Homo sapiens: one gene and its partner. The protein of the gene in region 1 purifies or fractionates together with the protein of each later gene. This does not show direct contact. Each region holds a gene or a part of one and is shown on either strand. Other genes may lie near its edges.

Evidence for each region.
Region 2: the proteins of FAM13A (region 1) and PPP2R5C purify together in Homo sapiens (affinity purification with mass spectrometry; one large-scale study listed by BioGRID and IntAct). This does not show direct contact.

The regions. Positions count from the first base shown.
Region 1 is NC_000004.12:88,745,950-88,749,766, forward strand, and holds part of FAM13A (protein FAM13A), read right to left. Parts: intron 3,085-3,817; coding exon 3,003-3,084; intron 1,903-3,002; coding exon 1,682-1,902; intron 1,067-1,681; coding exon 983-1,066; intron 1-982.
Region 2 is NC_000014.9:101,904,479-101,908,295, forward strand, and holds part of PPP2R5C (serine/threonine-protein phosphatase 2A 56 kDa regulatory subunit gamma isoform), read left to right. Parts: intron 1-1,923; coding exon 1,924-2,051; intron 2,052-3,817.

The DNA of each region.
Region 1 (3,817 bases):
AGGTCTTGTGCTAGACACTGAGGACTGGGGTCACCACTAGGTGAACAAAGCCCAGAATCCCTGACCTCCCACACCTTAGAGTCTAGTGAATTATTCTGGAACCTTCTTTATTTAAAAGAGCATATTTTAGATGAAAAGACTATCATATAGTCATGGCCAAGACTGAAAAAGAGATCTATACTTTTTGGCTATATAAAAATAATCAGTGAACCTAAACTTCGTGCTTCCTTATACCTGCTTTTAAAAATTTGTTTTGTTAGGTCTCTGACAACATTATGAACAAAAGGTTATTAAGAGTGACTGACAAGAAGGGTGTCTGATGAAAAGTTCTTCAGGGAAGAGAGCAGAAGCCTATCATGCTACCGTTTCCCCCACAGCTAACAACAAACATTTAAGCAATGCTTGCTGAACGGCAAGCCACCTCAAATGCTTCCCGTTGTTATGAAAAGGCAAAGCCATATTTTGGATTCCTCACGCTTCTGGTTCTGAACGGCAGCTGGAACTTCTTTACAAACACTAGTTGCACTGCATTGCAGAGAGATTGAATTCTAAGGCAGATCATTCTAGTTTCACACCTTTCATTTTATGGATGAGGAAGCCTACAGTGACAGCTTATTGGGGGAGACCTAGGGACAGGGAAGTCTCCAAACTCCAGGGGTCTTTATGCCCTATACTCTGCCCCTCCGACCCCTGGCCCCTCCACCATTCCTTCCTTTAAAGCGGTACATTAATGACTAAATTTTAGTTGCAAACCAATTTTTCATTGGAACCCAAGTAAGTTCCACATCTACTAGATAGAACTTTCTTATTGGTTAAGCCTTCAGAAAGCTTAGTTATGGTGTAAATATATACTAACCTCCTTTATCCTAAAAGTAAAGCAAGCAAACATTAGGGAACCCCATTTGTAAAATACTGAACATAGAAAATCCATTTCTAAAGCCAGATAATTGACCCCAATCAGAAAATTTACTACATCACATACCGGCCGTCCATGAATGCTTTCATAATATAACAGAGCTTTCTGCAGAGCCACTTTCTCATTAGCAATCTGGTCTTTGGTCATATCCTGTATAAACACAGGGATAGAGAATTGAAAGAGAGGAAAATGTGTGTGAACATTCCAACTTCTTTACTTAAATTACTAAAGCAAGGCTAAAAAGAACCCTCATATAACAGCTCTCCCTAGCTCTATCCAAAGTTCATTTAAAAATGGGTTACTCCTGAGCTCTTGGGAGAAACGTGGCCAGCACAGCAGAATCATCATCAGCCACCTGGATCTCCCTCACGGCAGCAAAGGTAAGGTGAACACTGAGGTAAGCAGGGCTGTGAGGCACATGGGGCTTAGCTTAATGGCCCAAGCAATGACGACGGTTATACGTTACATGGTCCCAAAGGTTTGTCTCTAATCCTTCTACCTCAGAGTCACAAAACCAGCTATTAACCTAAACAAGTTCATTCTGTAATCTATACAATAGAGTTTTGTTTTCAATCTGTAGTCAAAAACCAAAGCACCCACAGTTAACGCACTCTGCAGCTGTTTCATCAGCTTCCCTAGACACGTAACAGCCTGGAAGGCTTAACAAGGCATCATCTTCCCACTGGGATTCACGTGGCATGCCCTGTGTCTCTACCACATTGACTGCAATGGCTTAGGGCTTAGCACTTCACAGAATGATCGCACCTTAATGTCCTCAGGGCGGCTGCTTTCCGCTCGCTTCTCCTGGAGCTTCCTCTGAATAGATTCCAATGTGGCTTCAACACTGGGCTTTATTGCTTTATCCACCAGCTCTTGCTTCTTCTCATCTTCTTTCTCAAGTTGGGAACCAAAACTCTTGGGGAGTGTGTTGCTTCGCTGCCGCATCCTGGGAGTTAGGTCCTCTTCAGATATCTTTAGTTTTGATTCTAGTTGAGAAGATTTGGGGGTAAAGATATATGAGATTTATTTATTTATTTATTTTGAGATGGAGTCTCGCTCTGTCGCCCAGGTTGGAGTGCAGTGGCACGATCTCGGCTCACTGCAAGCTCCGCCTCCTGGGTTCACGCCATTCTCCTGCCTCAGTCTCCTGAGTAGCTGGGACTACAGGTGCCCGCCACCACGCCCGGCTAATTTTTTTTGGTATTTTTAGTAGAGACGGGGTTTCACCATGTTAGCCAGGATGGTCTCGATCTCCTGACCTCATGATCCTCCTGCCTCGGCCTCCCAAAGTGCTGGGATTACAGGCGTGAGCCACTGCGCCCGGCCTGATATATGAGATTTGATGTCTGCCCAACACAAATTGTTTTTCTGTAGTATCAATAACTTATTCTTTTTTCAGAGAGTATCTAGTTACAGTATCAGTAGAAATCCCTGAATTATTATGTAAAACCTGAGAGAATGGTAACATTTTCTTTGATTACATGGAATGTTTCCCTAACACTAATTGCTGAGAAAGCTTTAGCCACATCAGCCTGTATGATGCTCTCAGAATGTGGCATCCTTGCTCCTTCAGTGGTTAAAGGTATTTAGTGATCTAATGCCCAGCCACTGGCCAACCTTTTCTGTATGACTTACACACCTTATTCTGAAATTAGGTTCACTTTGTATTCTATTTAGTTGTTTACATGACTGTGTCTCTGAAAAGATGGGAATCTCTTTGAGGGATGGAGGCCATACCCTTTGCAGATTCATCTCTGTGTCTACTTGTTTGCTTCTACCACCACAGCAAATGGAGACTTGGATTAAACAGGTGTTGAGAGATGCTGACTTGAAACCATCATCCTTCTATTAGTGATCCAGGGAAATGAAGAAATGCTGCAGAATTCGCCTCTTAGCTGATCGGGTTGCCCTGTGACTGAGACCATGTGAAGACCTGGGGAAGTGGTCACTCTGAATAGCTGAGAGTGCTGGGAAGCATCTTTAAGGACCGGGGAATGCCTTAGCAGTGGCACTCAGTGGGAGAGGAGGTGAGAGATTCTGCACCTGGCTTGTTGTACAGAAGCCACAGCTCCAGAATTTTACCCACCTTTAAGTTGTCTCCGGAATTTGGCAAGGTCATTTGTCCATTTCAGAACCTCCGGATTGGCTGCTTTGTCACTGTGGGAAGGCTGAGAAAAGGAAGTCTAGAGTAAATGCTTTGGAACTGGAGCAGGGAAAGTAAGAAGTGTTTGATGATCATTTTTGTTTTAAATAGGAAGGAAAAGTTGAGCCCCATCAGAATAAGAAATTAAACACGACCAATCAGAGCAAATGTCACAAATGTAATTCCATTATCCTTCTTTATATTTGGTTATTGTGATGCTTTCAAAAAATTCCTCAGAGGCAAAATGCATCTTTATGATCAGTGACTTCTGTGAGGTCCATGACCCCCTTGCCATTATTTGTAGGGTTCAACCTGTAAGACGAACAGTGTAGAAAACAGAGGGGTATATGATGTTTTGCTCAGCAACCGTCACAAAAATGCCTTTTTGCCACTCTTGTGGTACAGAGCTGACAGCAGAACGAGCTCAGTGCTAACAAGATTTCAGAAGATAATATTGAATTAAATTTTAGTCAAACAAAGGATTTCATTCAACAATTTCTCCAGTTCCTGCTTACTGATTAATTTATAAAATGTAGACTTAAGCTTTCATTTTTTTTTTTGTAAGAATACACTTGTGCAAGGAAAATGCTGATACATAATGACTGGGGTTTATCAGGGTGTACTATCCAGGGTTTACTGCCTTTTTGTTGTAAGATTCCCTAGAAGCCTCCCTTAACCTTTCGTCGTTTCTTTGAGTTGCTGAAATGCTGCCATGTCCAGGGAGAGGATGAGGCGAAAAGAACAGTGTGAGGGGACAC
Region 2 (3,817 bases), on another chromosome or scaffold:
TTGAACTCTTAAGTAAGAACTAGCCTAGGAGCTGTGATGCGATTGTGCCTTGTTTTGAATCCACGCCGCACTCTCATGCATGCCCTCCCCTCCCCCATTACCTAACTCACTCCTTTTCTGCAAAGTTCATCCCAGCTCACTGCCTCTGAGGAATCAGCCCTGATTCCTGAGCCTGGCACAGGCTCACCTGCCATTCTCTCAGCATCCCACCCATACACACCGCACCACAACCTCAGGATCTCTAAGCTGTAGGCTTCTGGCAGGAGAAGCGTCAGCCCCATGCTGCTCAGAGCCTCCAAGTGCTGCTGTGAGTTGTGTGCAGATGAAGGGTGTTGACAGTAGTTATACAGGTGAAGCTCCTCTTCCCAGAGGCATACATGCTGTGATGGGGACAGGCCAAGTGTCCTGGTGACTGCCTCGAACTCCCAGATAGTTCTGTGGAACGTGCACTTGTGTGCTGGTTTACTACGGAGAGAAAAAGCAAATAGGGTAGGGTATGAACAGTGTTGAATCTGGGTGGAGGGAGGTGGGCACTCATTATGTTAGTCTTGCAGCTTTGTCTGTTTTTGAAAGTTTTAGTAATAAAAATGGGGGGCTGAGTGCAGTGGCTCACGCCTGTAGTCCCAGCACTTTGGGAGGCCAAGGCGGGTGGATCACCTGAGGTCAGAAGCTCGAGAGCAGCCTGGCCAACATGGTGAAACCCCGTCTCTACTAAAAATACAAAAATTAGCCAGGTGCGATGGCGCATGCCTATAGTCCCAGCCACTCAGGAGGCTCAGGTAGGAGAATCGCTTGAACCCAGGAGGCAGAGGTTGTAGTGAGTCGAGATAGCACCACTGCACTCCAGCCTGGGCAACAGAGTGAAACTCCATCTCTTTTTAAAAAACAAAAATGGATGGGCTAGGCGTGGTAGCTCACGCCTGTAATCCCAGCACTTTGGAAGACCAAGGCAGGTGGATCACCTGATCTCAGGAGTTCGAGACCAACCTGACCAACATGGCAAAACCCTGTCTCCACTAAAAATACAAAAAAGCCGGGTGTGGTGGCGTGCGCCTGTAATCCCAGCCCCTCAGGAGGCTGAGGCAGGAGAATCGCTTGAACCCGGGAGGCAGAGGTTGCAGTCAGCCAAGATCACGCCATTGCACTCCAGCCTGGGCAACAAGAGCAAAAATCCATCTCAAAAAAAAAAAAGAAAAGAAAAATGGGGGAACCACCCTCTAGTGGCTTCCCGTGAGTAAGCGCCAGTGCACTCAGGCCCTGTTCCCCTGCCCTCCTACTGTTCATGCCCCCACTGCCCTCTGCAGTGGTCCTCAGCCAGCCCCGTGCTGACAACTCAGGACCTCTCCTCCCTCTGGTCCTTGCTCAGATGTCACCTCCTCCCCATTGAAGCCACCCCACCGCACACGCACCGCCGCTGCCTGTTCTCCTGCCCTGCTGCCCTTTGTATGTGACTTATCGTTTCTAGTAAATTAATAATCATCCATCACCTGTCTCCTCCCCACTAGAATGTAAGCTCCGTGGAGTCAAGGATTTCTGCCTTGCTTTGTTCAGTGCTGAATGCTCAGCAGAACACAGCACGCCCTCTTGACCTGACAGATGGGGGAGGCGGGTGGATAGGTGGAATGGCCTCCTTTGAGTTGTCTCCTCAGCATCTAGCCAGCATCTAGCATAAATGTTTACGGAATAAGTAGAGAAATAGGTGACAATGTTCTTGATGAGTTGATGTACAAGAAGTTGTCTGCCTCTTTGTTGAAGGCTCTTCAGGGTTACAGGTTACAGTCTAGAATATTTTGAATTTGTAGAAATAATCATAATTTTCTGGTCCAAGGTAGTTCATTACCCGACTCACAGGTTTAACAGCAAGGACAGCCACCTGATGTCTCAGGCACAACCTCCAGCAAGCCATCCACTTGTGTCTTTCAGGTGGCAGAGCGAGCTCTCTATTACTGGAATAATGAATACATCATGAGTTTAATCAGTGACAACGCAGCGAAGATTCTGCCCATCATGTTTCCTTCCTTGTACCGCAACTCAAAGACCCATTGGAACAAGTAAGAAAGAACTGGCTGCCATCTTTTTCAGTCATTTTAAAATATGGCACGTTTTACTGCTACTTCAGTAAGAATAAATATCAGAATTTTAAATATCAATTAAAAAACAAGAAGGTCAGTTGCTTTGTGGACTCATAAATTAAGTAGCAGCGTGGGTTGTTTCTGTGGCCGTTGAATTTACCACCTTATACCTTCATTCCTGCCAGTATAGAGGCACATTGGTTTGCAGCCACCTCCCAGTAGCAGCAGTTTCTAGGCCTCTTCCTGAGCGTCCTGCAGAGAAGCTGAAGGTCTCTGCAGAGCCCAGTGGGGCTCAGCCCCGGCGGGGGCACAGTGGCCACTGCATTCTCGGGGTGTCTATTGAGCTCTGCTGACATGCACCCTGGATGAGCCCCTGTGTGAGACCCAAGAACCACCCCACAGTGGTCACTACCTGGAGAAGAAGAGGGAAGCCAGGTGATCTGAACACAGCCCCATAGTCCCAGCAGCCAAAAACATTTCCTCCTACTCCGCTCCTTCATCTTTTGACTTAAAGAGGATGAATAAATCCGTTTACTGAGCAATAGTCTTCTGAGACTTTAAAAGGAAACTGTTGATATGGGTGCCACATTATTTATTTATTTTTCTTTTTTAAAATTTGTATTTTATTTGTTTATTTTTAGACAGGGTCTTGCTATGTCCCCCCGGCTGGAGTGTAGTGTCACGATCATGGCTCACTTCAGCCTCGACCTCCTGGGCTCAAGCAAACCTCCTGCCTCAGGGTCCTGAGTAGCTGGGACTACAGGCACCCACCGCTACGCCTGGCTAATTTTTGTATTTTTTGTAGAGATGGGGTTTTGCCATGTTGCCCAGGCTGGTCTCGAACTCCTGGACTCAAGTATTCCACCTGCCTCAGCCTCCCAAAGTGCTGGGACGACGTGAGCCACTGCGCCCAGGCCATATTATTTATTAATATGGTATCATCTAATATTCCTGCTATTTAAAGAAATACGACTGAGTTTTTCTTTCCCCACCTTCTTTCATCTCTTTCCATTGTATATTGTAATTATAACTCAGAACTTAAAGAAGAGCAGGTTATGCTATCCAGCCCTCCTCCCTTAGTTTATGGGTGAGGAAGGTGAGACTTGGAGGGCATTCGCAGCCCAGTCTGCGGTCCCAAAGCTGGTGAGCGGCACTCTGGCCCGGTGCGGTCTCCTAACTCGCAGTGTCTATTGGGCACCCCTCTGGCTGTGCTGCACAGTCACCCTGCTGCCGGCGGACCAGCCCTCTCCCATGCACCCTCTCTCCTTGTCCGCTCGAGGCTGCAGGTGGCACTGCCTCCTTCCCAGAATTCTGCAGGGCAGCAGCCAGACAGGTGTTAGCCCTGGAGCTCTGAGCCAGACCCCCGAGCGAGCGTCCAGCCAGTCCACTCGCGTCAAGTCTTCTGAGGGTTGCCGCCCAGAAATTCAACAGAGAAGGGCAGGCAGATCAGAGTGAGGATGACTTTGGTTCACATTCCTGCCTTCCTCCTGAGCAGCTGTCTGAACCCGGGGAAGTTAGCTCTCACCAGGTCTTTCTTAGCCACAGTTTCTCTTTGGAAAAACTGAGAAAGTAAAGTGCTTTGCCTTGCAACAATCTTCACTTGGTTGTGAGGATTAAGATAAAGTTAATATGCGTAAAGTACCTGGCTTATGATAGGCACCAAGTAAGCATTTGCTGTCACTTAGTGGTTGTAGGGCCAGCAGCCATGCTGATAGCAGTGGAGGCAGCAGCCAAGACCCTCATGG